Homo sapiens: one gene and its partners. The protein of the gene in region 1 binds, or shares a complex with, the protein of each later gene. Links are inferred from orthologs where the notes say so. Each region holds a gene or a part of one and is shown on either strand. Other genes may lie near its edges. The genes, in order: PTEN, MAST2, SNTG1 and PARD3. A codon is read from its position in the direction of its gene.

The links.
Region 2: the proteins of PTEN (region 1) and MAST2 are in contact, whole or in part, in an NMR structure (PDB 2KYL), measured with the Homo sapiens proteins. Residues at the interface, in NP_000305.3 of Homo sapiens: Pro391, Phe392, Asp393, Glu394, Asp395, Gln396, His397, Thr398, Gln399, Ile400, Thr401, Lys402, Val403; in NP_055927.2 of Homo sapiens: Lys1112 (codon at 1,748), Lys1113 (codon at 1,751), Tyr1114 (codon at 1,754), Gly1115 (codon at 1,757), Phe1116 (codon at 1,760), Thr1117 (codon at 1,763), Leu1118 (codon at 1,766), Arg1119 (codon at 1,769), Ala1120 (codon at 1,772), Ile1121 (codon at 1,775), Arg1122 (codon at 1,778), Val1123 (codon at 1,781), Tyr1124 (codon at 1,784), Met1136 (codon at 1,820), Trp1138 (codon at 1,826), Glu1141 (codon at 2,026), His1170 (codon at 2,113), Val1174 (codon at 2,125), Ile1177 (codon at 2,134), Leu1178 (codon at 2,137), Leu1191 (codon at 3,259).
Region 3: the proteins of PTEN (region 1) and SNTG1 are in contact, whole or in part, in a crystal structure (PDB 7PC7), measured with the Homo sapiens proteins. Residues at the interface, in NP_000305.3 of Homo sapiens: Asp395, Gln396, His397, Thr398, Gln399, Ile400, Thr401, Lys402, Val403; in NP_001274742.1 of Homo sapiens: Gly67, Phe68, Gly69, Leu70, Ser71, Ile72, Lys73, Gly74, Glu77, His78, Ser85, Lys86, Ile87, Ser88, His118, Val122, Leu125, Arg126.
Region 4: the proteins of PTEN (region 1) and PARD3 are in contact, whole or in part, in an NMR structure (PDB 2K20), measured with the Rattus norvegicus proteins. The link is inferred for Homo sapiens from one-to-one orthologs. Residues at the interface, in NP_113794.1 of Rattus norvegicus: Asp393, Glu394, Asp395, Ser398, Gln399, Ile400, Thr401, Lys402, Val403; in NP_112514.1 of Rattus norvegicus: Ala599, Gly600, Leu601, Gly602, Val603, Ser604, Val605, Lys606, Gly607, Asn608, Arg609, Ser610, Lys611, His614, Lys622, Ile625, Met659, Leu662, Arg663, Met666.

Annotation. Positions count from the first base shown.
Region 1 is NC_000010.11:87,858,628-87,866,776, reverse strand, and holds the start of PTEN (phosphatidylinositol 3,4,5-trisphosphate 3-phosphatase and dual-specificity protein phosphatase PTEN), read right to left. Parts: upstream 3,123-8,149; 5' UTR 2,828-3,122; coding exon of another isoform or gene 2,674-2,827; 5' UTR 2,673-2,673; coding exon of another isoform or gene 2,308-2,672; coding exon 2,229-2,307; intron 1-2,228. Other genes in the region: MLDHR (PTEN upstream open reading frame MP31), read right to left, coding at 3,123-3,218; KLLN (killin), read left to right, coding at 4,290-4,826. UniProt on the Homo sapiens protein: Dual-specificity protein phosphatase, dephosphorylating tyrosine-, serine- and threonine-phosphorylated proteins.
Region 2 is NC_000001.11:46,030,577-46,036,775, forward strand, and holds the end of MAST2 (microtubule-associated serine/threonine-protein kinase 2), read left to right. Parts: intron 1-30; coding exon 31-185; intron 186-430; coding exon 431-714; intron 715-814; coding exon 815-1,009; intron 1,010-1,601; coding exon 1,602-1,828; intron 1,829-2,019; coding exon 2,020-2,142; intron 2,143-3,225; coding exon 3,226-3,362; intron 3,363-3,496; coding exon 3,497-3,690; intron 3,691-3,961; coding exon 3,962-5,490; 3' UTR 5,491-5,546; downstream 5,547-6,199. UniProt on the Homo sapiens protein: Appears to link the dystrophin/utrophin network with microtubule filaments via the syntrophins. Phosphorylation of DMD or UTRN may modulate their affinities for associated proteins. Functions in a multi-protein complex in spermatid maturation.
Region 3 is NC_000008.11:50,698,352-50,705,539, reverse strand, and holds part of SNTG1 (gamma-1-syntrophin), read right to left. Parts: intron 967-7,188; exon of another isoform or gene 941-966; coding exon 788-940; intron 1-787. UniProt on the Homo sapiens protein: Adapter protein that binds to and probably organizes the subcellular localization of a variety of proteins. May link various receptors to the actin cytoskeleton and the dystrophin glycoprotein complex.
Region 4 is NC_000010.11:34,812,229-34,819,986, reverse strand, and holds the start of PARD3 (partitioning defective 3 homolog), read left to right. Parts: upstream 1-4,690; 5' UTR 4,691-4,991; coding exon 4,992-5,111; intron 5,112-7,758. UniProt on the Homo sapiens protein: Adapter protein involved in asymmetrical cell division and cell polarization processes. Seems to play a central role in the formation of epithelial tight junctions. Targets the phosphatase PTEN to cell junctions.

The DNA of each region.
Region 1 (8,149 bases):
CAGTTTTAGAGAAAGTTTTAAGTCACACAAATTTCATGTGTAGAGACCAACATACGCTGAAATCAAAGAAAATGCCAGTCATGTCACAGCTCACATGTAAAAACCTGGTAAAATAATTTTAAGGTCTTAATAACCCTGATAATTTAAAATCAAGTGGGAAAAGTAAAAGTAGTGTGTTATGTACTTTAAGTGCTGAAAGAAATCTGTCTCCCAGACAGCATTCAATTATTTTCTTCAAAGGCTTTTTTTTCAAAGTTACATAAACATTTAATTTTTTGTTCCTATATATTTGGATGACTGTCAGTAATTCATGCTAATAGTAGACTGCTTTGGAAGTCACAAAAGAATTTTTCCATAATTATCTTCTGGGCAAGCGGGTCCAGTTTAGCCTTAGTAACATTCTCAATTAATGTCAACTTCAAAATTTGCAAATACTCTTTTAAAATAATATTTTTGGCTTAACAGAAAACTAAATTTTGGGAAGCTACTTCTTCAGTAAGTTTTACATTCATTTCAAAACAAAAACTTGGGCAAAATTAACTGTGCACATTTATATGCAGCTAACATAATCCAACGGAATAAAACCTCTCCCGATATAAACGCTGTCTTAAAAAAAAATATTCCCCACAATTTTTAGCAGGACATATAGACACTGTAGTGTCACTCTACCTTTAGACAAAATGCAACTGACATTTGCTAAGAAATAACTTTTATTAAAAATACTGTGCTAGTACTTATGCAATTACATAATTTTAACTAAATATTGTCCACTGCCACAATTCGCATTACCAAACTCATATTACCAAATTTTAGGCCTTGATAGAGCCTAAATGCTTCAGTCACTTCAGACCAATAACTTAATTCTGTTTTCACATACCTTATACACTGGCCTACCAATAGCTCTCAATTCCTGTCAATACTTTCCCCATTCTGCAAAAAGAGGGCCCCATCCCCATCCCTAATCAAAACCAATGTGTTGTACCTGAAACTGCAAAGATTAATGCTTTTCGATGACCACTAACTTTTGAAGCCCGAAGGCCTAACTTTTAGACAACTAAAGCTACACACTGTTAAAATTCTTGGGCTTCTGTCTTATTCAGCAAGCTGACTCAGTAAATTTAATACACTGTATGAAAAAAGCTAACATACCTACAATCTAAAGCTGGAGTAAACCCCTCTTGCCAGCATTTCTAGATATTAGCTGGTAAAATACAACTGACATTCTACACAAATCAGTAAAATTAACGATACCAAAAGGTGTCAGAGGACCTGAAACCTAAAAACGGTGAGCAGCAATTCTGGCATCACAACAATACTTAAATTTCAAGCATGAACTGAAGTTTTATTTCTGCAATCTTCACTTGCTACACACAATACCCTTGAACCTACACATTACCATCTGGGATCAGAAACTACTCAATATCCATTCTATGTTTATGACAAGAGCACTGAACATTAAATGCTACTGAAGTGCAAATTTCAAGCACTATCCTACATCACCCCATAGGGAGAGAAAAAGGTAAATATAACAAAGATCTAGTAAGAACGCCTTATAAGGTATATTATGGCACTATTGACTTCAAACTACAAAACTTCTACATACAGTTCAAAGTTGTAGGTAACTTAAGTTTAAACATTAACAAAACTACTTTTTGCCCTCAATGTGCACCATATATACTGAAAATGATTCTGCTTCTAAAGTTATGCAAATCAGTCATATTTTAAAAGAATCTATCAATGCAACTCAGGAAACTAAAACAATCACTGCAAGATTCTGATGCAATATGCGTACGTGCAACACTAATTTTCATTTTATTCTGATCTAAACCCTTGATCTAGGGCCTAAGCCAAGATTTAATCGAAATATGCTCAACCTCAAAAAGCGTCTACTTTTTTGTTCATTTAGGAGACCGGATTACCGAGCTCGCTAATCCACTAACAGTGTACTGTATTCTGTATTAACGGACAATAGCCCTCAGGAAGAGACCATATAGATAGCCTAAGAAAGCAATCGGTGGCTTGACACTTGCAACCAGGCAAGAGTTCCGTCTAGCCAAACACACCCTAGGTTGAATACACAGAAAGGAAACACAAAATATATGACCTAGCAACCTGACCAGGGTTAAATGTTATAGTCACCCAAACTACGGACATTTTCGCATCCGTCTACTCCCACGTTCTAAGAGAGTGACAGAAAGGTAAAGAGGAGCAGCCGCAGAAATGGATACAGGTCAAGTCTAAGTCGAATCCATCCTCTTGATATCTCCTTTTGTTTCTGCTAACGATCTCTTTGATGATGGCTGTCATGTCTGGGAGCCTGTGGCTGAAGAAAAAGGAGGAGAGAGATGGCAGAAGCTGCTGGTGGCGGGGCTTCTTCTGCAGGATGGAAATGGCTCTGGACTTGGCGGTAGCTGATGCCCCTCGCTCTGCCGCCGCTTGGCTCTGGACCGCAGCCGGGTAATGGCTGCTGCGGCGGCTGCTGGATGGTTGCAGCGACTGGGCCTGCTTCTCCTCAGCAGCCAGAGGCCTGGCAGCGGCGGCAGCGGAATGGGGAGAAGACGAATAATCCTCCGAACGGCTGCCTCCGCCGGCGGCCTCCGGAGCCCGGGCCACGGGGGGTGCGGCGGCGGCGCACGGGAGGTTTAAAACCGGCCCGGGTCCCTGGATGTGCCAGCCGCCGCCGCCGCCGTGTTGGAGGCAGTAGAAGGGGAGAGACCAACTCTCCGGCGTTCCCAGCCCTGGAAATGGTGACAGGCGACTCAGACCCCCTCCCTGGAGCTGCAGCCGCCGCGGCCGCCGCCGCCGCCGCTTCTCCCCCCCGCTCCAGGAGCGGGAGGTGCCGCCGCCGCCGCCGCGCCTCAGCCGGCTCCCGCCCGAGCCCACGGCTTCCACCTTCCCTTTCAGGAGAAGCCGAGGAAGAGGCTGCACGGTTAGAAAAGACGAAGAGGAGGCGAGAAACGCCGCCGCTGCCGCCGCCGCAGGCCGGCCGGCTCCCCGAGGGCGCTGCCCCCGCGGCTGCTCACAGGCGCTGAGAGGGGCTCCGGGCCGCGGCCGCCGCCGTCTCTCATCTCCCTCGCCTGAGCCCGGCCTCGCCTCACAGCGGCTCAACTCTCAAACTTCCATCATGGCTGCAGCTTCCGAGAGGAGAGAACTGAGCGCAGTCGCGTCCCAGCGCCGAGCGCGTATCCTGCCGCAGCGCATAAAGAGTCCCGCCACATCACCGCCCGCCGGCCTGCCCGCCCCCTCCGCCGCCGCGCCGGGAGCCCGGGCGCCTCGGAAGACCGAGGGGAGGCGGGAGGCGAGCGAGAGGCGGACGGGACCGCGCCGGGCGAGGGGAGGGCAGGGCAGGGCAGGGGGCGGTAGGAGGGGGCAGAGCGGTAGCTCTGGGTGCGAGCGCAGAGTCCCCAAGCCGCAGGCTCTACTGAGCATGCCCAGTGTAGCTGCCTGGGGCTTGCTCGGGCCGGTTCCCAGCCGCCAGCCTGCAGCTGCACTTGCTGCGGCTTTTGCAGCAACGCGAGGCGAGGATAACGAGCTAAGCCTCGGCCTCTGCCCAGAAACCCAGCCGGAGGCAGGGTAGGCTGTTGTGGGGCGGGGGTGGAGGACTGATGATGAAAGCTGAGATGGGTGCGTTGAGCAGTGTCACTGACTCGAGTCTGAGGTTACCTGTGCACAGGTGAAAAGGACCAGGTGACCACGCTGCTCAGTGTAGAGGGAAATGCAGGGACGGTCCCTGCAAGGGGAATACCCTCCCCCCTTGCCTCTACCCCTAGATTTCCGCGGCGTGGACTGCATTCGCTCTTTCCTTTTGCACCGCTGTCGGATCACAATCGTTCGCAGAGATTTGACTGTAACAGCCTTTGCCTAGAGATTCCCCCTTCCCCCAAATCTGTGTCCTCATGGTGTCAGTCTTAGCACAAAGAGCAACCTGCTATTGTGTCGCCAGCGTGTATCACCTCATCCGGCTCCCTTGCAGCGCCCCACCTCTCGCTTCCCCGGTAACTCGGCTCGTTTGCCCTAAAAATGAAAGCTCTCAGCCGAGCGTGCTGAACGTGAACACATAGCCGTTGAATTTCAAGGGCCCAAAGGGCACCTATCTAAATGAACTGAAAGAGGATCCCTGTGAGTGGGACGCACCCCGCAGGCCTCTCCTGCGCCCGCTCCGGTGCCCCCAAGAGAGTCGAGCATCTTTCCCCTCGGGCTCCAGGTCGGTTCGCGGCGTCGGAGTCAAGCTCGGTTCTCAGAGACCACCTAGCCCCGCCCCCCCTTGGCCGCCGTGAAAACCCGGCAGGATGGATCGCCCGGGGCCAGGCTCCGCGCGCCCCGGCCGGACCGTGCACGTTTGGGGTTACCGGGTTGAGTGGAAAGTACGGAACGGTAGGAAGCTGCAGCCCAGCGAGTGGGCGGGGCGAGGAGACCTAGGAGGGTTCAAAAGGAGGTGGAAGGATACACGGGCCACAGTCGGAACTACTTTCCGAAGGAGGTCACGTGTGTCCCTAGTTGGGGAACTTTCCAAATTCCCACTCCCCAGTGATAGCTCCGGAGGCAAGTCGTCTTCTTCCTTTGCTCGGGGTGCTCTTGCCTGGTGCAGGCAGCGGAACCCCAACCCTTCCTGCGCCGCGGCGGAAACAGGGGCTCGGACCAGCCTCCCGAAGGAGCGCTGTCGGGGCTGGCGCTTGGGGAACTGGTTACACAAGCACCCACATCCAAACACGTGCCCCCGCCTCCCCGCCTGCTGGCTGCCGCCGATTCTTACAGAACGCGGGGAGAGAGTCCCCAAACTGGTGCCACTCCTCGCCTGCTACCCTAAGAGCAAGCCAAAGGACTGAGACCTGAGACTCACTCCTTGCTCTACATCGACCTATTCTGCGCCTTCCCAAACGTGGGAAAAGGAGCTGGGCGCTAGGGCTCTCGGGCCTCTCCATCGCTGATGCCCTGCCGCTTAGGGTGAACCCTTTTGGTTCTGTGCTTGAGGGTATCTCCTGCTGCAGCCCAGAGCGTGCATTCTCCGATGTTGCAACAAACGTCCAGTCACTACCCCTGAGCTGGTGAGCGCGCCCCACCTACTGTGGACTCAGCCAAGTGACTTATCTGGTCTGAGAACCTAGTCAATGGCCGTCAGCCCAGAACAAACCTGTCAAGTCTGTTTACAGCCCCGATTGGGCTGACCTGTCACCGTGAGAGAGCTGATTCGGAAATGCTGAGAGTTGGATCGCACTCCTACCCCGCACCCCACCCGTCAAGGATCTACAAAGCAAGTAGTCGACCCGCTTAAAGAGAATGAGCATCAACACCAGTCTGGGAATTTATTGTTTTTTCATTTCCCTTAGGAAGTAGAACTACAGACGACAATTTGAGTCAAAAAATATCTAACGAGACCTAGGTTGAAGCACTGAGTTGTTTTTCAAACTTTGAGAGAATGAGAATCAATCTGCATGTGTGTTCAATAATTGTAAGTGCCTAGCAAAGTCTAAAGAGGGTTTATGCTGTATTTGAGAAAGAGTACTGTATATGTGCACATCATAGTTGCAGGCAACCTCTGAAGACTAGAAACCTCAAGAGACCTAGCGCAGAAAGCCACAGGCCATTACCTAACTCCGGGACTACTAATTAAACCTGGGATATTTACAGTGTTCTTAGAGACCTCTGAGGCTCCATAAAACTTTGCACTTATATACAGCATTTAAGATAGCTGTGCAGGAGTTAACAACCTGCTGAAGCTTCAGTGTTGATATTTATTGAAGACTGGTTTTGTGCATAGTTCTGGTCAGCTTGGGAAAGGCAAGGACCACAGTGGAAAAGGAAATGGAAAGCAACCGGAAAAGAGTAAGAGAAAGGCCTCCAGTTGATTTCCAGAGATGCAGATACTGTCCACACAGCCTAGCGTGAACTACAGATTTCATTATTGTATAAATAACCAAAGATAAGGAGTTCCTGATGTCTAGGTGTTCTACTAGATTGCATGGTAAAAACCAGAGCTGTGTTTAATTATCAATTACTGCGTGGTAGAAAAAGGGAAAATGAAGATGAACTTTTAAAAGGGGAGTAGATTAGGGAGGGGTAAAATGTCTCACATTTGTTTCTTAGATTGCTGATCTTGTCTCCAGAGTCCCTGTTATTAGCACTGCCCTTCTCTGTCCCTCCCCTGGAGCCTACCCTAAGTGACAATTAGTCTCATAGCATCTGAGAATCTCTGAAATCTGCTTTCATGGAAGCAAATGAAACAAGGGTGCATTCCTGTCCTGGTGCGACAGAATCCTCTTGGATTCCATGGCACAGAGTTACTCTGGAGCAGAGATAATCTGCATCACCAGCACTAAAGTGCTAGAATATGAGACCAGCCTCCAAGTACTTCCATCCGGCTGAAGAAAGAAAATGGGAAATGGGTTTTACTGCTTCTCTAAACATCAGGTCCCTCTACTTCTCTCTAGTGGTGAATGAAAGGATCATCAATGTTGGCAGATATTTGGCCAGCCCAACAGCAACATCAGGTGGTTATTAGGAGTTGGTGAATAAAATCCTCCTTCTGTTCCTAGTGTTAAGTTGTTTCTGAAAGAAATACTGATGCATCCTTTTCCAATTTTTTGTTTTTCTTTTCCTTTCTACCCAAATGGCTGGCCCTATCTAAACTAAAGAAAGTTTCAAAAATAGTACTTTTTTAAAGTTCAGTTGAAAATACCTGCTTGGCTGTATAGATATTACAATACACTGGTCTCCAAGCACTTCAGTTCTTTTTTTTTTTTTCTTTTTTTTTTTTTTTTTTTGAGACGGAGTCTCACAGGCTGGAGTGCAGTGGCATGATCTCGGTTCACTGCAACCTCTGCCTCCCAGGTTCAAGCAATTCCCCTGCCTCAGCCTCCCGAGTAGCTGGGACTACAGGCGCACACCATCATGCCGGGCTAATTTTTTGTAGTTTAGTAAAGACAGGGTTTCACCATGTTGGTCAGGATGGTCTCGATCTCCTGACCTCGTGATCTGCCCGCCACGGCCTCCCAAAGTGCTGGGATTACAGGCGTGAGCCACCGCGCCCGGCCATACTTAGTTCTTTACCTGTCTGGATTCAGAACCAGAATACCATAGGGAGAAGTAGAAGCTTGTAACAAAGGGACAATTATATAAAGCTTCAGGGTGACTATGTAGATTGATTAGTAAGCATGGTAAACTAGCTTTAATTATCGCTTCTAACAGCTGATTCCAAAACTCTATTGTTACTACACCAAAATAATGTCGAAAGAAAATTTCTTTCTTATTTTCTTTGATAAGCGAAATGACCAGCAACTTGATGTGGATGATATAAATACTTGATGTGCTCTTTGTAGGTCATCTGCTAAGATGTCTTTTGTGTAAACACTCTGATCTCTATAGTGCCTTTCTCATCTCCCATACGCTGACCTTTCAAAAAGGGATCTAACTCAATAGCTTTAATTTTTAAACAATCTTCTGTATTTCTGTCTGTTTAACTACTGTTTTCTAAATAATACAGAATATAAAAACATAATAATCATTGGATTGAATGTAAACCCATTGTTCCAAGGGTCTGAGGTTTTCCCCTTATTTCATTTATCCTAATAACAAACATTATTGTTCTTTCAATAAAGATAATTTTAAGACATTCTCCAAAAGGCGCTACTGTGGGTCATACAAGTAACTATATTCTAAAAGAGAATTTTCCATTATTGTCTACAAGCTTCCCATGTCCCAAATCTCTCCTGAAGCTATTTCAGATGCCATGGTGTCATCTTTCACATCTTGGTAGAGAGATGTGCTGTATGAAATCATCATTCTCAGAGAAATAAGGGTTGAGTTGGTTGCTCCTGAGAACAATAGAGCAGACCAGGTACTCACTGTGTCCAAGTGGCGTTCAGAAATTTTGTCTTGGACCGTGGAGCAATACAAATAAAAAAGACATAACATGACAAGACAGCTTTGACTATGTTAGTCTCCAGGCTAACACTAGCTACCAATTATTCTACTTGGTCCCCTTAATACTAACTCTAGCCATATGGAGCACATTGTTTGCTTTTTAGACCTTCCAATAATAGAAAAAGGTAATTCCCATATACCAGAAAATATTGGGACACCTACCAGGTGCTTCATAGAGTAGGCAGAAATTTTTTTTTTTTTTTTTTTTTTTTTTTTTTTTGAGACGGAG
Region 2 (6,199 bases), on another chromosome or scaffold:
CCATCCCCAGCGCATCCCCTGTGCCCACAGGTGTACAGCAGCATGGAGCGGCTCTCACTGCTCGAGGAGCGCCGGACACCACCCCCGACCAAGCGCAGCCTGAGTGAGGAGAAGGAGGACCATTCAGATGGCCTGGCAGGGCTCAAAGGCCGAGACCGGAGCTGGGTGATTGGCTCCCCTGAGATGTGAGCACCCAGAGTTCACCCAGGGTGGGCGACACAGCTATCCCTGCATTGTCACAGATCATGGGAGAGATTCCGATGCCAGGGAGGAGTGCAGGTGGCAGGGAGGGGGCATTCACAAGGGTGGCTCCTGGAGGAATGTCTGCGGAGGAAAGTTCTGTTACTATAACCCTTGTGTGCCCCTAAGGAGACCTGGCAGGAGGAGGGGGACCACCTGGGTCACTCACCCCAGGCCTTGTGTCTCATAGATTACGGAAGCGGCTGTCGGTGTCTGAGTCATCCCACACAGAGAGTGACTCAAGCCCTCCAATGACAGTGCGACGCCGCTGCTCAGGCCTCCTGGATGCGCCTCGGTTCCCGGAGGGCCCTGAGGAGGCCAGCAGCACCCTCAGGAGGCAACCACAGGAGGGTATATGGGTCCTGACACCCCCATCTGGAGAGGGGGTATCTGGGCCTGTCACTGAACACTCAGGGGAGCAGCGGCCAAAGCTGGATGAGGAAGCTGTTGGCCGGAGCAGTGGTTCCAGTCCAGGTATGGCCCAGTGGGCGGCCAAACGACCTAAGCTGGAGGATACTGCAGGGCAGGGAGGCTCAGCGGCATCGCGGGTCTCACTGCTTACTTGGGCCTACAGCTATGGAGACCCGAGGCCGTGGGACCTCACAGCTGGCTGAGGGAGCCACAGCCAAGGCCATCAGTGACCTGGCTGTGCGTAGGGCCCGCCACCGGCTGCTCTCTGGGGACTCAACAGAGAAGCGCACTGCTCGCCCTGTCAACAAAGTGATCAAGTCCGCCTCAGCCACAGCCCTCTCACTCCTCATTCCTTCGGGTGAGGCCCCTGGGGAGCTGGGATAAAACTCACAGGAAGGGCCTTGTAATCTCTAGGCCTTGGGAGGGTTCTGCACGTGGCAGGTGTGTGTGTGTGTGTTAAGCACAGATCTGACTGTGGTCTCTGAAGGTGTGTATTGGTGTCTGGGGTTGTGTATACATGTGCCAGAAAGCAGGACAGCACCATGTCACAAGTGCAGGCTTTGGGGTAGAGAGCTCACACTCAAATCCTGGCTCCATCACTAACAGGCTCTTGACCTTGAGCAAGTTGCTTAACTTCTCTAAGCCTCAAGTTTCTTATCCAAAAATGTGGATATAATAGAGGCCAGCTGATAGGTTGTGACATTTAAATATATATGACAAGCTTATATAGTCCCTGATACACACATAAATGCTAGCTGCCATTTCTCATCACCACCACCGTCTCTTGGGGTCTGGACACGGGAGAGGGCTTCACAGGTCAGGGGCTGTGGGGAAAATGGACCTAGGCTCAGGCTCTGTCTGTGACTAGAGTTGTGCTGACATCAACAGACTGGACCAGGGGCCAGGCCAAAGCCCTCTGACCCACTAAGTCCTGGCTTCTCCTTCTCCAGAACACCACACCTGCTCCCCGTTGGCCAGCCCCATGTCCCCACATTCTCAGTCGTCCAACCCATCATCCCGGGACTCTTCTCCAAGCAGGGACTTCTTGCCAGCCCTTGGCAGCATGAGGCCTCCCATCATCATCCACCGAGCTGGCAAGAAGTATGGCTTCACCCTGCGGGCCATTCGCGTCTACATGGGTGACTCCGATGTCTACACCGTGCACCATATGGTGTGGGTATGTCTGACCATCCAGACCTGCTGTCTCCCTGCTTCATCATCCTTCCAGCTTCCCCTTTGTGGAGCCCATCTGTCCCTGCTCGGGGGTCAAAGGGTGGTGGTGAAGGGGCTCACAGCTTAATGTCCAGAACCAGGCCCCATACTTCGTGTTCAGGCTCCAGTCTGAGTACTGTTCTCTTCCTGGCACAGCACGTGGAGGATGGAGGTCCGGCCAGTGAGGCAGGGCTTCGTCAAGGTGACCTCATCACCCATGTCAATGGGGAACCTGTGCATGGCCTGGTGCACACGGAGGTGGTAGAGCTGATCCTGAAGGTTAGTGCTGGGCGTGCTGCCTGCATGGTCCCTGAATGACCTCAGCCTGTGAGTCTGTGATGGCAGTTAGGGGAGTGGGTGAGTTGGGTGCACACACATCTACACCGAGTATGGATGTAGGTACACACAGGCCGGGCGCGGTGGCTCATGCCTGTAAATCCCAACACTTTAGGAGGCTGAGGCAGGTGGATCACTTGAGACCAGAAGTTTGAGACCAGCCTAGCCAACATGGTGAAACCCTGCCTCTACTAAAAATACAAAAAAAAAAAAAAAAAAATGCCTGGGTGTGGTGGCTCACGCCTGTAATCCCAGCACTTTGGGAGGCCGAGGCGGGTGGATCACCTGTGGTCAGGAGTTTGAGACCAGCCTGCCCAGCATGGCAAAACTCTACTAAAAATAACAAAAATTAGCCAAGCGTGGTGGTAGGCACTTGTAATCCCGGCTACTCGGGAGGCTGAGGAAGGAGAATTGCTTGAACCTGGAAGGCAGTTTGCAGTGAGCTGAGGTCATACCACTGCACTCCAGCTTGGGAGACACAGCAAGACTCTGTTTCCAAAAAAAAAAAAAAAAATTAGCCGAGTGTGGTAGCACATGCCTGTAATCCCAGCTACTTGGGAGGCTGAGGCAGGAGAAGTGCTTGAACCCAGGAGGCAGAGGTTGCAGTGAGCTGAGATCGCACCACTGCACTCCAGCCTGGGTGACAGAGTGAGACTCTGTCTTAAAAAAAAAAAAAAAAGATGTAGGTACACACAGAACTTGAATGTGGCACAACAGAGAGTTTTCTCCACAAGGCAGTACCCTCCCTGACTAAGGCCCAGGGATCCTTCTGAGCTGTGGGTAGGGCTGCAGAATGGGACGGATTAGCCTGTTTTCTACCTTCTTACCCCAAACCACTCTGGGGCTCCAATGGGAGCCATTTCCTCATCTGTAAAAACAATAATATAGGCCTGTGGTTCAGATGTGTTGGTGCAGGGACAAAAAGCTGGAGCTGTGGTATAGCCATGCCAGAAGGGAAGGATTGGGGGAGGGGAGGGGCAAGAATATGGCTCCAGCTTAGCCTAGGCCTCATGCTCTGCTCCCCAGAGTGGAAACAAGGTGGCCATTTCAACAACTCCCCTGGAGAACACATCCATTAAAGTGGGGCCAGCTCGGAAGGGCAGCTACAAGGCCAAGATGGCCCGAAGGAGCAAGAGGAGCCGCGGCAAGGATGGGCAAGAAAGGTGAGCCAGGCGCAGTGAAGAGGGTTTTCTCTGAGCCACATGAGTGCTGGTACGTGGTGGGTGCCTTGGCCCTGGGGGTCCAGTGTGTGCTGTGCTCACTGCACCGACTCAGCCTTTGACCCTTATCCCCGCAGCAGAAAAAGGAGCTCCCTGTTCCGCAAGATCACCAAGCAAGCATCCCTGCTCCACACCAGCCGCAGCCTTTCTTCCCTTAACCGCTCCTTGTCATCAGGGGAGAGTGGGCCAGGCTCTCCCACACACAGCCACAGCCTTTCCCCCCGATCTCCCACTCAAGGCTACCGGGTGACCCCCGATGCTGTGCATTCAGGTACGAAGGGCTCCCTGCAGATCAGTGACAACCCCTGGGAAATAGGAAAGTTCCTAGGCCCTGTGTGCTTCTGACAGATCCCACTCTGAGTCTCTCATTTAGCCCACCCCCTGAAAGATCCTGTAGTCTTGGGGAGGAATTAATTGATGGGGAAGGGGGTAGCTTGGTTTCTGGGACATAACAGGGCTAAGCCCTGTCTTGCCCTTGAGTCACTTCTAACAGCTAACACTGCTCTGCTTTTGTCTGTCTGTCTGTCTGTCTCTGTACAAAGTGGGAGGGAATTCATCACAGAGCAGCTCCCCCAGCTCCAGCGTGCCCAGTTCCCCAGCCGGCTCTGGGCACACACGGCCCAGCTCCCTCCACGGTCTGGCACCCAAGCTCCAACGCCAGTACCGCTCTCCACGGCGCAAGTCAGCAGGCAGCATCCCACTGTCACCACTGGCCCACACCCCTTCTCCCCCACCCCCAACAGCTTCACCTCAGCGGTCCCCATCGCCCCTGTCTGGCCATGTAGCCCAGGCCTTTCCCACAAAGCTTCACTTGTCACCTCCCCTGGGCAGGCAACTCTCACGGCCCAAGAGTGCGGAGCCACCCCGTTCACCACTACTCAAGAGGGTGCAGTCGGCTGAGAAACTGGCAGCAGCACTTGCCGCCTCTGAGAAGAAGCTAGCCACTTCTCGCAAGCACAGCCTTGACCTGCCCCACTCTGAACTAAAGAAGGAACTGCCGCCCAGGGAAGTGAGCCCTCTGGAGGTAGTTGGAGCCAGGAGTGTGCTGTCTGGCAAGGGGGCCCTGCCAGGGAAGGGGGTGCTGCAGCCTGCTCCCTCACGGGCCCTAGGCACCCTCCGGCAGGACCGAGCCGAACGACGGGAGTCGCTGCAGAAGCAAGAAGCCATTCGTGAGGTGGACTCCTCAGAGGACGACACCGAGGAAGGGCCTGAGAACAGCCAGGGTGCACAGGAGCTGAGCTTGGCACCTCACCCAGAAGTGAGCCAGAGTGTGGCCCCTAAAGGAGCAGGAGAGAGTGGGGAAGAGGATCCTTTCCCGTCCAGAGACCCTAGGAGCCTGGGCCCAATGGTCCCAAGCCTATTGACAGGGATCACACTGGGGCCTCCCAGAATGGAAAGTCCCAGTGGTCCCCACAGGAGGCTCGGGAGCCCACAAGCCATTGAGGAGGCTGCCAGCTCCTCCTCAGCAGGCCCCAACCTAGGTCAGTCTGGAGCCACAGACCCCATCCCTCCTGAAGGTTGCTGGAAGGCCCAGCACCTCCACACCCAGGCACTAACAGCACTTTCTCCCAGCACTTCGGGACTCACCCCCACCAGCAGTTGCTCTCCTCCCAGCTCCACCTCTGGGAAGCTGAGCATGTGGTCCTGGAAATCCCTTATTGAGGGCCCAGACAGGGCATCCCCAAGCAGAAAGGCAACCATGGCAGGTGGGCTAGCCAACCTCCAGGATTTGGAAAACACAACTCCAGCCCAGCCTAAGAACCTGTCTCCCAGGGAGCAGGGGAAGACACAGCCACCTAGTGCCCCCAGACTGGCCCATCCATCTTATGAGGATCCCAGCCAGGGCTGGCTATGGGAGTCTGAGTGTGCACAAGCAGTGAAAGAGGATCCAGCCCTGAGCATCACCCAAGTGCCTGATGCCTCAGGTGACAGAAGGCAGGACGTTCCATGCCGAGGCTGCCCCCTCACCCAGAAGTCTGAGCCCAGCCTCAGGAGGGGCCAAGAACCAGGGGGCCATCAAAAGCATCGGGATTTGGCATTGGTTCCAGATGAGCTTTTAAAGCAAACATAGCAGTTGTTTGCCATTTCTTGCACTCAGACCTGTGTAATATATGCTCCTGGAAACCATCTTTATGTCTTTTGCTTGCTTGTTTTCCTTCGGTCAACCCACATGTAACTAGGTCCTGTGTTGCTGCTGGGAATATAGTGGTGAATAAAACAGTTTCCACCACCAGGGGAGGGCCACCTAACCCAGCTTGACTTCCCAAAGGCTTTGACATTTGAGCTCAAACATGAAGAATAGATGATAGGTAGTAGTTTGCTGGGTGTGGAAGAGTGGAGGTTGGCATAAGAAAGGCTGTCCAGGCAACGTTTAGCACATGCAGTATACCTGGCATAGTCAAGGAACCAAAGATAATTCAAAGTAGAAACGGGTCTGGCAAGTGAGGCAAGGGCCATGTCTAATGGTCTTCCAGGAGATTTGACTTCGTGAAGGTGATGGGGAACCAGAAAATACCATGTAGCAACTAAAATTCCTTCATAGATAAGGGCACTAAGACTTTGATGCCCATGGTAATACAGTAGCTTGGGTAGAACGGGGGTTAGAACGTAGGTCTCCCTTGGACTCCGGAACTCACATCTCTCCTAACTAGGATTGCCTCAGCCAGGAAATGAGGAGGGGAAGAAGTGAGAGAAGGCAAAGAGTTTAACTTTGGGTGCGTTTGAGATAAAAGAGAAGACAGAAGCAGCAACCAGCAGAGTCATAAAGTCTATGGGAGGAG
Region 3 (7,188 bases), on another chromosome or scaffold:
TGCTGCTATAAATAAGTAGAAAACACAGTATAAATTTTATCACTAAACTACACTATTTTAAAATCTATTTCCTATATTGTATTTCTAATCAGATGTATTACTTTTATGATTTTTATTGTTGTATGTGTTAATGACTTCATGTAAAAATGTAATTGCTTTTCATGAGTAGTATGAATACAATTGATTAGTTTGTGTTTTCTTATCTGTAAAAAAACCAGAAAAGTACATTATATTGTGTTCAAAAGTGAGAAGAAGAGTTGTTTGAACAGGATAGTTGTAGAAGGAGTATTGGCAAGCATTAGGCAGGGTGGACTGGAAATCAGGGACATGTTCCTGGATGATATGACCTTTGATAAAAAGTCTCAAAAACTCTGTGTGGCTTTGAAGGATGGAGGCAAAGGGAAAGAGCATTGTGAGTAAATGACGCCAACAGGCTGGAAATTAGGAGGTCATATTTGGAGAACAGGAAGTGACCTTGTCAACAATTCATTAAATCAGAGTATTTTCTATATTAGATTTAAGTCAGAGTAATGTCTAATTAAAATTAGAAATATATTTTTAATTAGTAGTAGGAAATAGCCTGGAAAGATCAAGTCGTGGAAAAATTAAAATTTTATTCAGAGCTGTATTACTAGTCACTAAACAAAAATGGCTAATTATAGAATGTATATGAGGTCAAGATTCCCAGAACTGTATTTTTACACTACTTTGGAATGATATTAGAACTCTAGGGAAGTGGTCATGCATCTGAGGGAGCCACACATCCTGCAGTCCCACAGACTCTCACCTGTATCCGTTCTACTTCTAGAAAGGTTGCTGTCTGGAAGGCTCTTTCCCACTGGGCGAGGTCACTTTCCAGCTCCACTGAGAAGTACAGGTCCTCCCCAGACTCAGACTGCACGGTGAAGCACTGTTTCCGTCGGTCCAGCAGGTCACTGTCCTGGTGAAAACCTGGAGTTACACAGGCTGGCACACATCACTTCACATTGCTAACCTGGCCATTCCTGACTGGACCAAGGTGCAGAAGCCACAGGTAAAAAGACAACACTCTGCGAATTCACCAAGTCTTCATTAGACATTATACCAGAACTCCGGGCTTCAAAGCCCCAACACATGACTTCTCTGTCTTTACACTGAAGCATGTCCATAAAATAGAAGTTAGGGTTTCTGGCTTCATCTCTTACTAACAATATAACCACCAAAGCATTTAACATACAAGACTTGGTTTATTACTCTACAAAGGGGTGACACACTATCTCTTCCCTTCCTTACATAACTGTTATGATGTTGAAATTAAATAATGCTTGTGAACATGTTTGTAAATTTTAAGGAACTTTATAAGCAAACCAAAATATTCTTCTCCATGAGAAATGAAAAAGAAAATGAGTCTAATTTGTCTACAGCAATAATATTGCTTAAAAAAAAACGCATTATTTACCTTACTTGTGTAACTGTATTTCATTGTATCAAAAAAACGACTTTGATGCTGGCAATTTCTTGGTCTTACCAGAAGTTTTCAACTGAAGTGTTCACAAATTTACATATATTCCAATTTAAGAGACATTAACATGAGAAAAAAAAGTGAAGCAAATAATTTATGAAACAGAGTAACCCAATGCAACATGTCAGATATAGCATTTTAAATACAGTCATGTGCCGCATAAGGATGTTTGGGTTAATGATGAACTGCATATGCGACGGTGATCCTATAAGGTTATAAGGGAGCTGAAAAATTCCTATCCCCTAGCAATGTCATAGCCGTTGTAATGTCATAGAGCAATGCATTACTCTTGTGTTTGTGGTCATGCTGGTGTAAACAAACCTGCTGTGCTGACAGCTGTGTAAGTCTAGCACATACGATTATGATGTATGCTACATAATAATAATGATGATAAGAAAGAATATGTTACTGGTTTATGTATTTACTGTATTATAGTAATACAGTAAATATTACTGTATTTACTGTACTCCTATTTTTTTAGTGTACTCCTTCTATTTATTAAAAATATAGTTAACTATAAAACAGGCTCAAGCAGTTCCTTCAGAAGGTATCCAGAAGACGGCATCATTATCATAAGAGATGACAGCTCCATGCGTGTTATTGCCCCTGAAGACCTTCCAGTGGGACAAGATGTGATGATGGAACTCATCCTGACTATATGCAGGCCAAGGTTAATGTGTGTGTTTCTGTCTTATTTTTTATAAAAATTTTAAAAAGCCAAAAATAAAAAAGTAATTTGTAAATTTAAAAGTAGAAAAAAAATGTAGAGAATAAGGATATAGAATAATTTTGTACAGCTACATAATGTGTTTGTGTTTTAAGCTAAGCACTTCTACAAAAAAGGCCAAAGTTGAAAAAATTAACTTTGTAAAGTAAAAAATGTTACAGTAAGCTAAGCTTAGTTTATTATTGCAGAAAAAAATACTTCTTATAAATGTAGTGTAGTCTAAGTGCTCAGTATTTATAAAGTCTATAGTGCTGTATAGTAACATCCTAGGCCTTCACATTTACTCATCACTCATTCATTGACTCACCCAGAGCAACTACCATTCTGCAAACTCCATTCATGGTAAGTGCCCTGTATCTGTGTATCATTTTTTTTTTAAATCTTTTAGACTGTACTTTTACTTTACTTTTTCTATGTGTAGATGTGTTTAAACAACTACTTACCATTATGTTACTTTTGCCTACAGTATTCAATACAGTCATATGCTATACAGGTGTGTAACCTAGGAGAAATAGGCTGTACTGTATAACCTCGCTGTGCAGTACGTTATGCTGTCTCAGGTTGTGCAAGCAAATTCTGTGGTGTTTGTACAACAGTGGAACCATCTAACTGAGAGGCATTTCCTGAAATATATCTCAGTTATTAAATGACTGTATATATGCTATATCTATGCAGTGTACTGAAAATTGTCAAAGGGTTAATCACTGGTATCTGTAATCATTTCTCATAAGGAGGGATGTAAGTGTATCATTATTAAACACCCAAAATGTTAGATGGAATTCTCTGCTTTGGCAAATGTTTAAAAAATAATAACTATTTTCATTGTTTCCTGCTTGCATTCTTATAATTGCTGGAAGAGAGCTAATGGAAGGCATTTACTTCCAGGGTTGTAGAATTTAGCTCTGACCCTTGCTGCCAGTAGATGCTCAGAAAGCTAAAAGGATGATAAATGCTGTGCTTATTGATTTTCCTACTCTGTCTGAAGGGAGAAAAAAATGAAAACATAATATGTTTGAGAGTACAATCTAATGATAAATTATAAATACTTTTTAGTAGTTTTGGGGTTATAATATCTATGGAGGGAACAATGAGAGATAATAACTACACAAGTAAATATATTAGTACAAATTATTGTAAATGCCATTATAAAAAAAATAAGAGGCTGGGCGCAGTGGCTCATGTCAGTAATCCCAGCAATTTGGGAGGCCGAGGTGGGCAGATCACTTGAGGTTGGGGAGTTCCAGACCAGACTGTCCCACATGGTGAAACCCCATTTCTAATAAAAATACAAAAATTAGCCGGACATGGTGGTGCATCCCTGTAATTCCAGCTACGTGGGAGTCTGAGGCAGGAGAATCACTTGAACCTAGGATGAGGAGGTTGCAGTGAGCCAAGACTGTGCCACTGCATTCCAGCGTGGGCAACCAGAGGGAAACTCCATCTCAAAAAGAGGAAGAAGAAGAGGGAGAAGGAGGAGGAGGAGGAGGAGGAGAAGAAGAAGAAGAAGAAGAGGAGGAGGAGGAGGAAGAGGAAGAGAAAGAAGAAGAAGAAGAAGGAGAAGAAGGAGAAGAAAAAGAAAAAGAAGAAGAAAAAGAGGAAGATGAAGAGGAAGAGGAAGGCAAAGAAGAAGAAGAAGAAGGAAGAAGAAGAAGAGGAAGAAAAAGAGGAGGAAGAAGAAGAGGAAGAGGAACACGAAGAAGAAGAAGAAGAAGAAGAAGAAGAAGAGGAAGAAAAAGGTATTATATCACAATAGATTGAAAAGCTAGAGAAATGTTCTCTAGGAAGTAAATTTTAAACAGTGGCTGAAAACGAGTAGAATATCAAAGATAAAGTATAGAAAAAGGGTGTTCTTTCCAGAGAGTGGATGGGACTGGCTGGGGCCAAGTCAGGCATTTCAGAAATTCAAAGAAAAGGAGGCAGAAACATTGAGAGCTGAAGCTAGGGAAGGACATGGGATGATTGATCTGGTTATAAATTTTGGACTTGAACACAGTATAATGACAAGCTACTATAGCAAAAATTTTAGTATGCCCTCTCTTTATACTGCAGATATTTCAACATCTACCTTAGCTTTTTAAATTGATAAATTGGCAAAAATCTATAACTAAACGTTGCAGTTTCCAGAAACCTTGCCAATTTTATGGTTTATTAAATTGCCCTTCATTTTCCTTATAATAAAAAATATTATCTAATGTCATTATTAGTCAGAAAATTTTGTTATTTTTTCCTTTTCATAAATCACATGTAGCAATAGGATCTTAAAATGGACTTCATGTAAGATTTTCTATTCTCTTAGCAAAACTTTACTCCTTTGCTCTTTTAAAACTCAATTTAAGATCTTCTGTTATATTACCCAAGTCGTGACTCTCTCTCAGACAAAGCATCCTCTAATCAACTCTGCAAATATAGTTTCAGCATCTCTGAAAACTTCTTGCCATTTCCTGTTGTTATTTATAATATACTTCTCATGAACTGACTCACACTGCAAATGGCATCTGAGCACCCAGGTCTCATTTTAGTGAGGGAGAGAAATATGTTAAAATAACGAGCATATGACAGTGCTATAGAGGTAACATGCTAAGGAAGCAGAATAAGGAACGATAAATCATCTTGAGGGAAAGTAGGAGGGGGAAAGTTGTATTGTAGGGAGAGACTGTAGTACCATCAAGGACTTAAAGACAAATGCAAGAGCAACCTGGTGCAAGCCTGAAAAAGACCAGGTGATCCTGCTAAGAAATTCATAGAATGCACCTGCCAGGAAAAGATATTGGAGAGTTAAGTGAGAAGGGGGCAGCATAGACTCTAAGCTTTAGATGGCTAAGAGTGGATGGGTGGGAGGAGGAGAAACTTTGGAAAAAGCAGGGGTTCCTTTATCAGAAATTTAGTGAAAAGTGACTATAGCTCAATCATTTTAAAGATCTACTTTCAACATAATCATCTAAAATCATTGACACTAGATTTCTTTTACTAGAGTTTCTACCTTTGCTGCCTATAACATTTCAAAAGATTGTGTTCCTTTACGGTTGCAGTCATTATCAAGTTATATGCAAGTAATAATATATATATAACTAACTGAAAAACTAAATAAGATACTCTTAGAGACTGGCATTGACTAGAAGTATTAGTATAATAAGGAGTATTTACACGATTATCCACATAGGTTTAAATAAGAATGTATATATTCCTCTTTCTCACCCTCATTCTCTCTCTAACACACATGCAGGAGCTGTTATAAGGTGATAAGAACAAAAGTTCTAGCTTCAGAATTCTGTCTTGATTTGAATCTCCTCTCTTTTATTTATTAATAGGTAATCCTTGTCAAGTTGATTACCATATATATAGCTTCCTTCACTCATCACTAAAGTGGAAATAATTAATTGATCTGATGATTAAATAAGATACTATATTTAATTCTTTGCTTAGTATCTAATACTTGGAAGTACTTAATGTTGGAAATTTTTGTTGTCAGTATTGATTCAATAAAATAAATACAGATAAATATTCGTATCATTTCCTAACTTGCCTTCTATGGCTTGCTCTCTGCATGCATTTCTCTTTTGTCATAGTTTGACTTATGCCCCAGTAGAAAGAATAGCCTCCAGAATACTTTTTTGCCAACTGGAAAGTATCATTTAATAATAGTAATGATAATAATAATAGCTAAACATATCAAGAACTCATCAGTTGCATTTTTCTCAATTTTCTCACTTCTCCAGAAGTATCTTCTATTTTGTTAGATTTGTTCCAAGTTCTCTCAGATTTATAAAGCAATATTACAAAGAAACAACAGGTTTTTTTTTCAAGATGGCTGACTAGATGCTTTTCCAGGGTACTTCATCCACTTAGAAGAATGACAATGGTGTGTAGACAATCACACTTTGCACATATGAAAGCAAAATCAAATATTGGGACCCCAAACTCACTATACCAAAGGGCTAAGTTTAGGTAGTTAGTCATGAAAAAACTGCCTTCCTTTCATTCCCAAAAAGCTGTAATTTCATGTTTACTTTATGTAAAATGTAGCTTTTCTGCTCATTAGTAAGATCCTCACAAGAATGTGACCACTTATCTCATTGCCTACCCAGACTTTTTTTCTTTCTTCCTCTTCCTGCTTGCTTTTTCCCTGTTAAATATTGAAGTTCCCAGAACCCTTTTTAAAAAAAAGCACAGGGTACAGATCTCCTTGTGATTTGTGTTTCTTTTTCCCAGGCATGTTCTCAACCTTGGCAAAATAAATCTCTAATTGATTAAGATCCACCTCAGTAACTTTTTTGTTTACAAACATATTATCCAAGAGAGAACACAGGAGTTCAACAGTAACACACGAAGAAACTCCAAAATCTGACCAGAAAAAGAAGAACAGTCAGCCTGTGTGGCTGTGGGACTGGCTGAAAATGAGAAGAGAGTAAATTCCCAATATGGGAGAGGGTGAGTGAGTATCTTTCTGTGGTCCAATTTCCCACTATAGAATCATATAATTCAGGCCACGGTAGAGCACCATGACTTTTCTAAGCCCTAGATCTACCTTGGGATGTGGCTGGGAGACTGTAAGAAGTACCTGCTCTGGGAAGTGTCCCATGCACTTCCCGAGACCTTGGAACCTACAACAGAACACCATTCTTGATCCTAGCTCTTTGCAAGCTGTGCACAGTCCTGAAAACTAGCAGCAGTGGCAGCCTTTGTCATTAAAGAGGCTCTAACAGTATCCTGGGGATCTGGTGCTCAAGCAGGGAAGAGGTTCCCACAGCCAGAACCGAGAATCAAGTATGGCATGGGCTCCAGCCATTGGCATGCTGGAACCAGGCTCACCCCATCTTTCACTTCACCCCCTTCCCCCACCAGTACAGGAGGGGATTTGTTTGGGAGGCATAGTGTTGGGCTGTGCAGTGACTCCTAAGGCCTGGGGCAGCTTGTGTTGACAACTAGAAGTAAACTGCACTAACTAAGTGAACAGCCAAAC
Region 4 (7,758 bases), about 53 Mb from region 1:
TAAAGCATCACCACGAAGCACCTCTTCATATCACTGGACTTTCCAAATCCTGCCTCCAGTCAAGGTGGCCCGCCAGAAAGTGAGTGGCTGAGGTGGCTTTATTCCACTCTGCTGCACATTTGTCTTTAACAGAGTTGAGTGTTAATATCACCTGCTCTGCCAGCCTCCACCTTGTTCTGCCAACTTTCATGGACTTCACCAACAAGCTACCTCATTCTTCAGCTCTGGGACCTGGGAAGGAGGGAGATATTTGACTGGGGACTTGGGCTCTGAGTGGTGGGTCATGGCAAACATGGGTGCTTACTTTCTGCAGGGATGGGCCTTTTCTGGCATTCTGAGGCTGGGTGACACCGGGGCTTCTAGAAGTGGTGATCTCAGCCTGGACTCAAGTTTTTGCAAAGTGGGCTCTCTCAGCAGGGCAGTGCTGACATACCTTCCAGCAGTGTCTGGGAACCAGAACAGGAGAACGAAAATGCAGAGAAGGGCCAGGCATGGTGGCTCACACCTGTAATCCCAGCACTTTGGGAGGCTGAGGTGGGTGGATCATTTGAGGTCAGGAGTTTGAGACCAGCTTGGCCAACATGGTGAGACCCTGTCTCTACTATAAAGTATAAAAATTAGCCGGGCGTGGTGGTGCACGCCTGTAATCCCAGCTACTTGGGAGGCTGAGGTGGGAGAATCCCTTGAACCCGGAAGGCAGAGGTTGCAGTGAGCCAAGATCGTGCTACTGCACTCCAGCCTAGGCAACAGCAAGACTGCATCTCAAAAAAAAAAAAAAAAAAAAAAAAGGCAGTGGATACTTTGGTGATGGTTGCTGATGGACTGGTTGAGGGCAACCCTGGAATATTTTGAAGGGGGCTCTATTTGGGCAGGTGAGGACTTGGATATGTATTCCCAATGTGTCATGAAATTTTATGAATTACAAAAAAATTTTCATGAATTTTGACTCAAGACACCAAAGGCTCTGGCATCTAGAATTATGCAGTACTAGTTTTTCATCCATTATTAATATAAACGGAATCACTGCATCTAGATAAACTAGGTAGATTTAAATACAGCTGTAAGGCTTTATCTGGTTGGTGGAATCAGTGTTATTAATCCTCTGGATCATATTTTTTAAAAACATCCATATCCTTATTAGGTATTGAATAGTTAAAGGAATTGATGTACATAAAATGGTATCCACATATCCTGATGTCATCTCTGTTATGAAAGCTTCCCCCTTCTCTAGTACCGCCATAAACACTTTGCTGGCACTGAATATTTAATGTGTTGAATTATAGTTATTGGAATAGCTATCTTATTCTGACCTCTAGATTGTCCTTCTTTTACTCACCTTTATAATTCTGTAATATTTAGCCAGTGCTTCCTGCAAGGAAGGTCTTTACTAACTGCATGTGGAATCAAATTTAAGTGAATTGAGTGCAGGCCTGAGAGTCAGAGCTGGAGTTTTTGGTTGTAGTCCTAGCCCAGTCACTGGAAAGTTGTATCACCTGGCTAGTCATTTCTTTGAGCCTTGGTCTTCTCCTGTCCTCCTCATCTCTCCTGCCTCCTCCACTGTCATCATTTGCTATCCTGTGCTGGACTTTGTTACCCTCTGCCTTCATTACGGTAACTGGACTGTACTACGCTATACATTCCCATGTGGCAGCGTGGCAGCATGTACTGTTTTTTTTTTTTTCTTTTGAGACAGAGTTTCATTCTTGTTGCCCTCGGCTCACCGCAACCTCGGCCTCCTGGGTTCAAGCGATTCTCCTGCTTCAGCCTCCCGAGTAGCTGGGATTACAGGCATGTGCCACCATGCCCGGCTAATTTTGTATTTTTAGTAGAGACGGGGTTTCTCCATGTTGGTCAGGCTGGTCTCGAACTCCCGAGCTCAGGTATCTGCCCACTTCGGCCTCCCAAAATGCTGGGATTACAGGCGTGAGCCACCATACCCAGCCGTACTGTTTTCTGATACATTATTTTATTTAACATTCATAACTTATGACCAGGTGCCGTGGCTCACACCTGTAATCCCAGCACTATGGGAGGCTGAAGCGGGAGAATCGCTTGAGGACAGGAGTTCAAGACCAGCCTGGGCCACATAGTGAGACCTTATCTCTACAAACAATTTAAAAATTAGCTGGGCATAGTGGTATTTGTCTGTAGTCTTAGCTGCTCTAGAGGCTGAGGAAGGATTGCTTGAGCCTGGGAGTCTGAGGCAGCAGTGAGCTAAGATTGTGCCATTGCCCTTTAGCCTGAACAACAGAGCAAGACTCTATCTCAAAAAAAAAGAAAGACTGACTCATAACCTATGAGATCTATGAGATGGATATGGATATGATAAGCTCTACTTCTCTACTTTTCAGCTGATAAAACGGGCTGGAGAAAGAGTGACTGTTGTGTCTAAGGCACTAGTAAGTGGCCAAATATGGATCTGAACCTAGATCAGTGTGATGTCCTATGTACTCTGGTTATTACTGAAAAATGACTTTCGATTAGAATTATTTTGAGAAAGCCCCACTCTAATTTATTATACTCAAGCTAGTATACCCCTCTGAACTAGTGTAGCATCAAAACTAGTATACATTCTCTGCCGCGCGGTGGCTCACGCTGCAATCCCAGCACTTTGGGAGGCTGAGGCGGGCGGATTGACCAGCCTGGCCAGCATGGTGAGACCCTGTCTCTAACTGAAAATACAATAATTAGCTGGGCGTGGTGGCGGGCACCTATAATCCCAGCTACTCGGGAGGCGGAGGCAGGAGAATCATTTGAATCCAGAAGGCGGAGGTTGCACTGAGCCGAAATCACGCCACTGCGCTCCAGCCTGCGCAACAGAGCGAGACTTGGTCTCAAAATAAATAAATAAATAAATAAATAAAAATAAATACATAAATAAATGTAAAAAACACAAAATAAAATAAAGTAGTATACATTCTAAACTAGTAGTATACTCTCCCAATGCATGAAAACAGAAACAACACCTATAATTATCAGTAATTGTTGTTGTGGATCCAAGTATCTATGTAAGAAGCAAAAAACCCACATCAACAGTTGTTGTCATCGTTGTCACAAACTTAATTACTGGCTAGAAATGTCTAGTGCTGCAGCCAAACAGCAGTAGGAGGAGCCTTTCCCATGGCTGAGTGGAAGGAGGGAAACCTAGACTATTTCTGGGTCTGCCTTGAGCTTTCTCTGCCGCCTTGGGCAAGTGACTTTGGCCCTGGGTCAATGTCCTGGAGTAAGATGGGGCTAACACCACTGCACTGATTTGCTGGGACAGGTGGTGGAAAGTGGTGGTCCAGGGCTGGGAGAGGAGAGGAAGGGCAATGTTTCCTAGGAGAAACTGCACTATGCTGGGGCAGCTGCGGTGCTGCAAAGCGCAGGGAGTGTGGCAAGCGGACGAACCTCGTGTCTTGTTTCCTTGTTTTAAGATTGGAGGTGGAGTGGGATGGATGGTCGATCGCCAGCTCTTCCAGCTCTTAAGTGCTCAAGTTCTGCGCCAACCCAGGGGAGCTTGATTGCTTTCACGTGTCTTGGAAACAACTGGCAAAAAAGAATTTCACATAGTCTGGAAAGGGCTTGGGACAGGGACCACTCTTTGCAGACATTTGTCATTCTTTAAACATAATGACATACATTTATTAAGGACTCATAGTCCATAACTAAGACAAAATGAGCTTCAGTTACGTTCCCTAACTCGGTCCACGTTCCTTTAGAACGTCTCAAGCCCGCATGTCACTCATCGCGGAGTCGCAGCCTTCCCCTGGGTTCGGGCGTCTGCGTTAAGCGCCGGCACATCGTGGGGATCCCCGCGTGAGATTTCTCTGCGCCGTCGGAATAGACTGTTCACGGATTCGCGTTAGGATTCCTTATGCTGCAGAACTTCAAAGAAATAAATGTATCAGAATTGCGATGTTTAAGTTCTAATCTATTTAAGCGGGTGGGTCAGCAGAGGGTCAACAGGAAACTTCAAGGTAAATAGTGGCCTCTGGAAAAGGCCCGGTCGCTCACGGCTTCCCCACTGTCTCCCCAGAGCAGACTATTAATTCTTGCGTTTCAGGCAGAACTGCCGCTGCCGGCCCTGCAGCAGAGCTAGGGAGCGGGCAGGGCAGAAACCCAGCCGAGCAAGCTGCAGGCTCGAGTCCCCGCGGGCGGAGAGGCTCGGGCTGGAGCCTCCGGGGCGGTGAGGAGGGGACTCACCGCACTGAGCACAAACTGCTTTCCCCGGGAGCGCCTGCACCCAAAACCCTCCAGTTCGAGGAATGGGATTAAAAGTGACAAAGAAAGGGGAAGGGGGGCTCCGTGGAGACTTCTGGAGGCGTGGAAGGGGCGTCCCCGAGGAGGGGCGACGCAGCCCTGCAGGGTGCTGGGCGGGCGGGGTGAAGGGGGCTGGGGGGCGCCTGGGCCAGGGCTGGTGGGGGCAGACGGCCGCCTGCCCGTGCTGGCACTGGGGCGAGGGGTCCCGCGCCCCCGGAGGGAGGGAGGGAGGGAGGGAAGGAGGGAAGGAGGTCGGCCCCCGAGGGCGGTGGCGGGGGCGCGAGCTGCGGTCCTGCGCTCCGCCCCGCGCGGGTAGCCGGCCGCGCCTCCCCCTGCCGCATGTGCGCGGTGTTGTGTGCCCTGCCCTGCTCCTCCCCCTCCCCTCCCCTCCCCTCCCCTCCCCTCCCGCCGTCCCCTCCCCCAGCGGCCCCGAGCGAGCGCCAGCGCCACACAGCCCCGGGCAGCCGCCGGCGAGCGCGCCGCGACGCCGAACAGGTGGCCGGAGGCTGCGGGCGCCGCGGCGGGGAGAGGCGAGGCAAGCCCCGGGCGAAGCGAGGCGAGGCGAGGGCGGCCGGGCCGGGCATGCGAGCTGAGCGGCCCCCCGGCGTCGCCGCCGCCTGCCCGCGCCCCTAGCCGCCCGCGCGCCCGAGTCCCCAGCGGCTCCTCCGCGCCCAGCGTCCTCGGTCCCGGCCTCGGCTGCTCCGGCTGCGCTCGGCGAGGGGCGCGGGCCCGCCCGCGGCGGCGGCGGCATGAAAGTGACCGTGTGCTTCGGACGGACCCGGGTGGTCGTGCCGTGCGGGGACGGCCACATGAAAGTTTTCAGCCTCATCCAGCAGGCGGTGACCCGCTACCGGAAGGCCATCGCCAAGGTGAGGGGCCGGGGGCGCGGGCGGGGAGGGGGCGGCGGCGGGGACGGCGCCGGGATCAATATGGCGCTTCCTGGAAGGGGGAGGAGAGGCGCAGGGAGGCGGGGAAAGGGAAAGTGCGGCCGGTCGGGCCTCGCGGGCGCCCCCCGCCCCGGACTGCGGGCGCCAAAGTTCTCTGCGCGGGCCGGGGCGCAGCCTCTGGGACACCCAGCCGGGTCCCGCGGCCCCCGCCCTCACCCTCCGCCCGGGAGCTCCGGCCTCGGTAGCGCGGGGCGAGCCGGGCAGCGGCGCATAGGCCGGCCCTGGGCGCCTCCCCGGAGTCTGCAGACCCAGCCAAGCCCCGAGCCAGCGCGCGGGGGGCGCAGGCCGGGAAATCCAGCCCCAGGCCTTTCCCGGCTCCCAGGCCCCGGGGGCACAGGCCGGGGACTGGGAACTTTTGGTGTGAGGAGAGTTTCGTGACTGCCCTTCCGACAGAGGCGGGTTGCGAGCCTTCTGCCTCCTCTCCCTTACTCGGGCGGGGGCGGAACAGCGGCGGGGGGCTTTTCCTCCATGTCCCCTGCTGGTAGGGGCCGGCAGGGGCGGCCCGTCGCGTCCGGGGGCTGCAGGGTTTGGGGAGTCGCCGGCTTGGGGTCGGGGAGGCGTTCCCGGGAGGGCCACCGCTGGCACTTGGCACTCGCTTGCGAGCATTTACTGAGCTGATCCCACTTGCTGGGCTCTGGAAAGCACAACCTTGGAAGAGTCGCGGAATGAAAAGTTTTCCTGCGAGGACCTCAGCTCCTACCTATCCCGGGCTGGTTCCATGTGGCTGGGCTGCGGGGCCGGGCCTGACTTGGGAGTTGAGTGGATTTCCCTTTTTCCTGGTGGACTGATAACATTGTCTCCACTTCACAGCATTCCTCTACTGTGTGTCAGAAGTGAAAAGGCGTTTTGTTAAATTGTTTTACCGACTGTGTCTGTGTTTGACAACAGCCCACGCTGAAGTTTCTCCCAAGCACCCGGGGATATATTTCCTTTGTAGTAGAGTCCTCTTTGGTGGGGAGCGCATTCGTTTGGGTGCAGTATTTCCCATTTGTTCCCGACAGTGGCCTGGCCCCTGTGGGCTTGGGGGCTGCAAATGACGTTGGAAAGTGGCTTGGTCAGCCCTATTGAGCGTACACAGGGTACTCCGGTGGCATCTTCAGTTCTCTCAGAAATTAAGAAGTAAAAGCTTTTTAGACTTTTGTTTTGCTTTTAGTATATATTGGAAAAAATAGCATAAATTTGGCCTTTTAAAGATAATTTTGGGGGACGTTTGGAGACCCGACACAAGGATGGAAGACGTTGGCTTTAGTAGCTCTGTTATGTTCCTTACAGTTGAACTCTTTTATTGAAAATCAAATAAAATTAGTGGGAATTGGGCACCTGTTTATCTTGCAAAGCTGACAAAGGGAAAGAAAACCATCTAAATGGACATTTAGCATTTTTAAGTGTTGTTTATGTGTGACAGTTTATGCTTTAAATGTTCCAAAAGAGTACTCAAATTGTTCAGGCACTCTGGAAACCAACAAAACAAATTGTGCAAGGAAAGAGAAATAAAGTAATATGCACTCTGCAGTACGTCTAGGCTCCTGAATAGGAAGAGGGTGGTCAACATTTTCTTTCACTTTACTAATTTTATGTGATTAAAATTGTTTTACCTACTGTGTCCCATGTTTCATCCTGCACAAAATAGACATAGGCTGAACTGCCTGTTTGGCAGTAGTTCAAATGTAGTTGTTCCAGGCATTCGTTCCACAGAAATTCTGAAGCTTTGACTGTGTCCATGGCACTGTTCTGGGTGCTGGACATCTAAGGGACCCACTGGCTGTGAGAAGCTGAGCAAGAGGCTGCGGGGTCCTCCAGGTGAAGGAGCTGGTGATGACATGGGGAGAAGAGGTGGCCTCTGGGATGCTGGGTGGCTAGAGTGCAGGGCCTTGGTCACGGACCTGGTCCTTATTAACGATTAGCAGTGGTTGTTTCACAGGGCGTAGAAAAGGGAGTGCAGTTTTTTAAGGGTGTCTGGGAAGGTGTCACAAAGAGAAAAGGGGCCTATGAGCTGAAGGAAGGGAGGGTGATAGTGACATGGGAGTTGGAGATGAGAGGGAGGGTCAGAGATGGGTCAGGGGTTCCAACACTTACATGCTCTTTAAGTACAACTTAGAGTTCTGTAGGTGAATTTTAACGGGGGCTTTGCAGTATACCAAGTTCAGTCATTGGATCCCAAGATTGTTGACCCTTAAATGTTGCCAGAGCTGGAGTGTCTTCTAGGTCTCCTTTTTCTCGTTTTTCTTCTGAAATTGCTAGACAATGATTAAGATTAATTTTTAGTCTTTCTTACTACTTTTCCCATTCTATATTAAGTGATGAGGAAGTGTTAATATGTATTTAACACTGTTTTAACTTTTATTCTCTATCTGTTCCTTATCCGTATTGCCTAATAGAACAAGAGAAATTCTGTGTGAAGAATTGGGTGGCTGGATAGTTGTGGAGTGGTGTTTAGGTTGCTAGGTGACATGTGGCTTGATGAGCTCCCATCTGGTGGGGAAAAGTGTGGGCAGATCATGTTTATGGCTTTGGATAATAACCAACCAAGCCAAAAATAAAAAATAAAAAGGAAAAGAGAAAGGTCCCA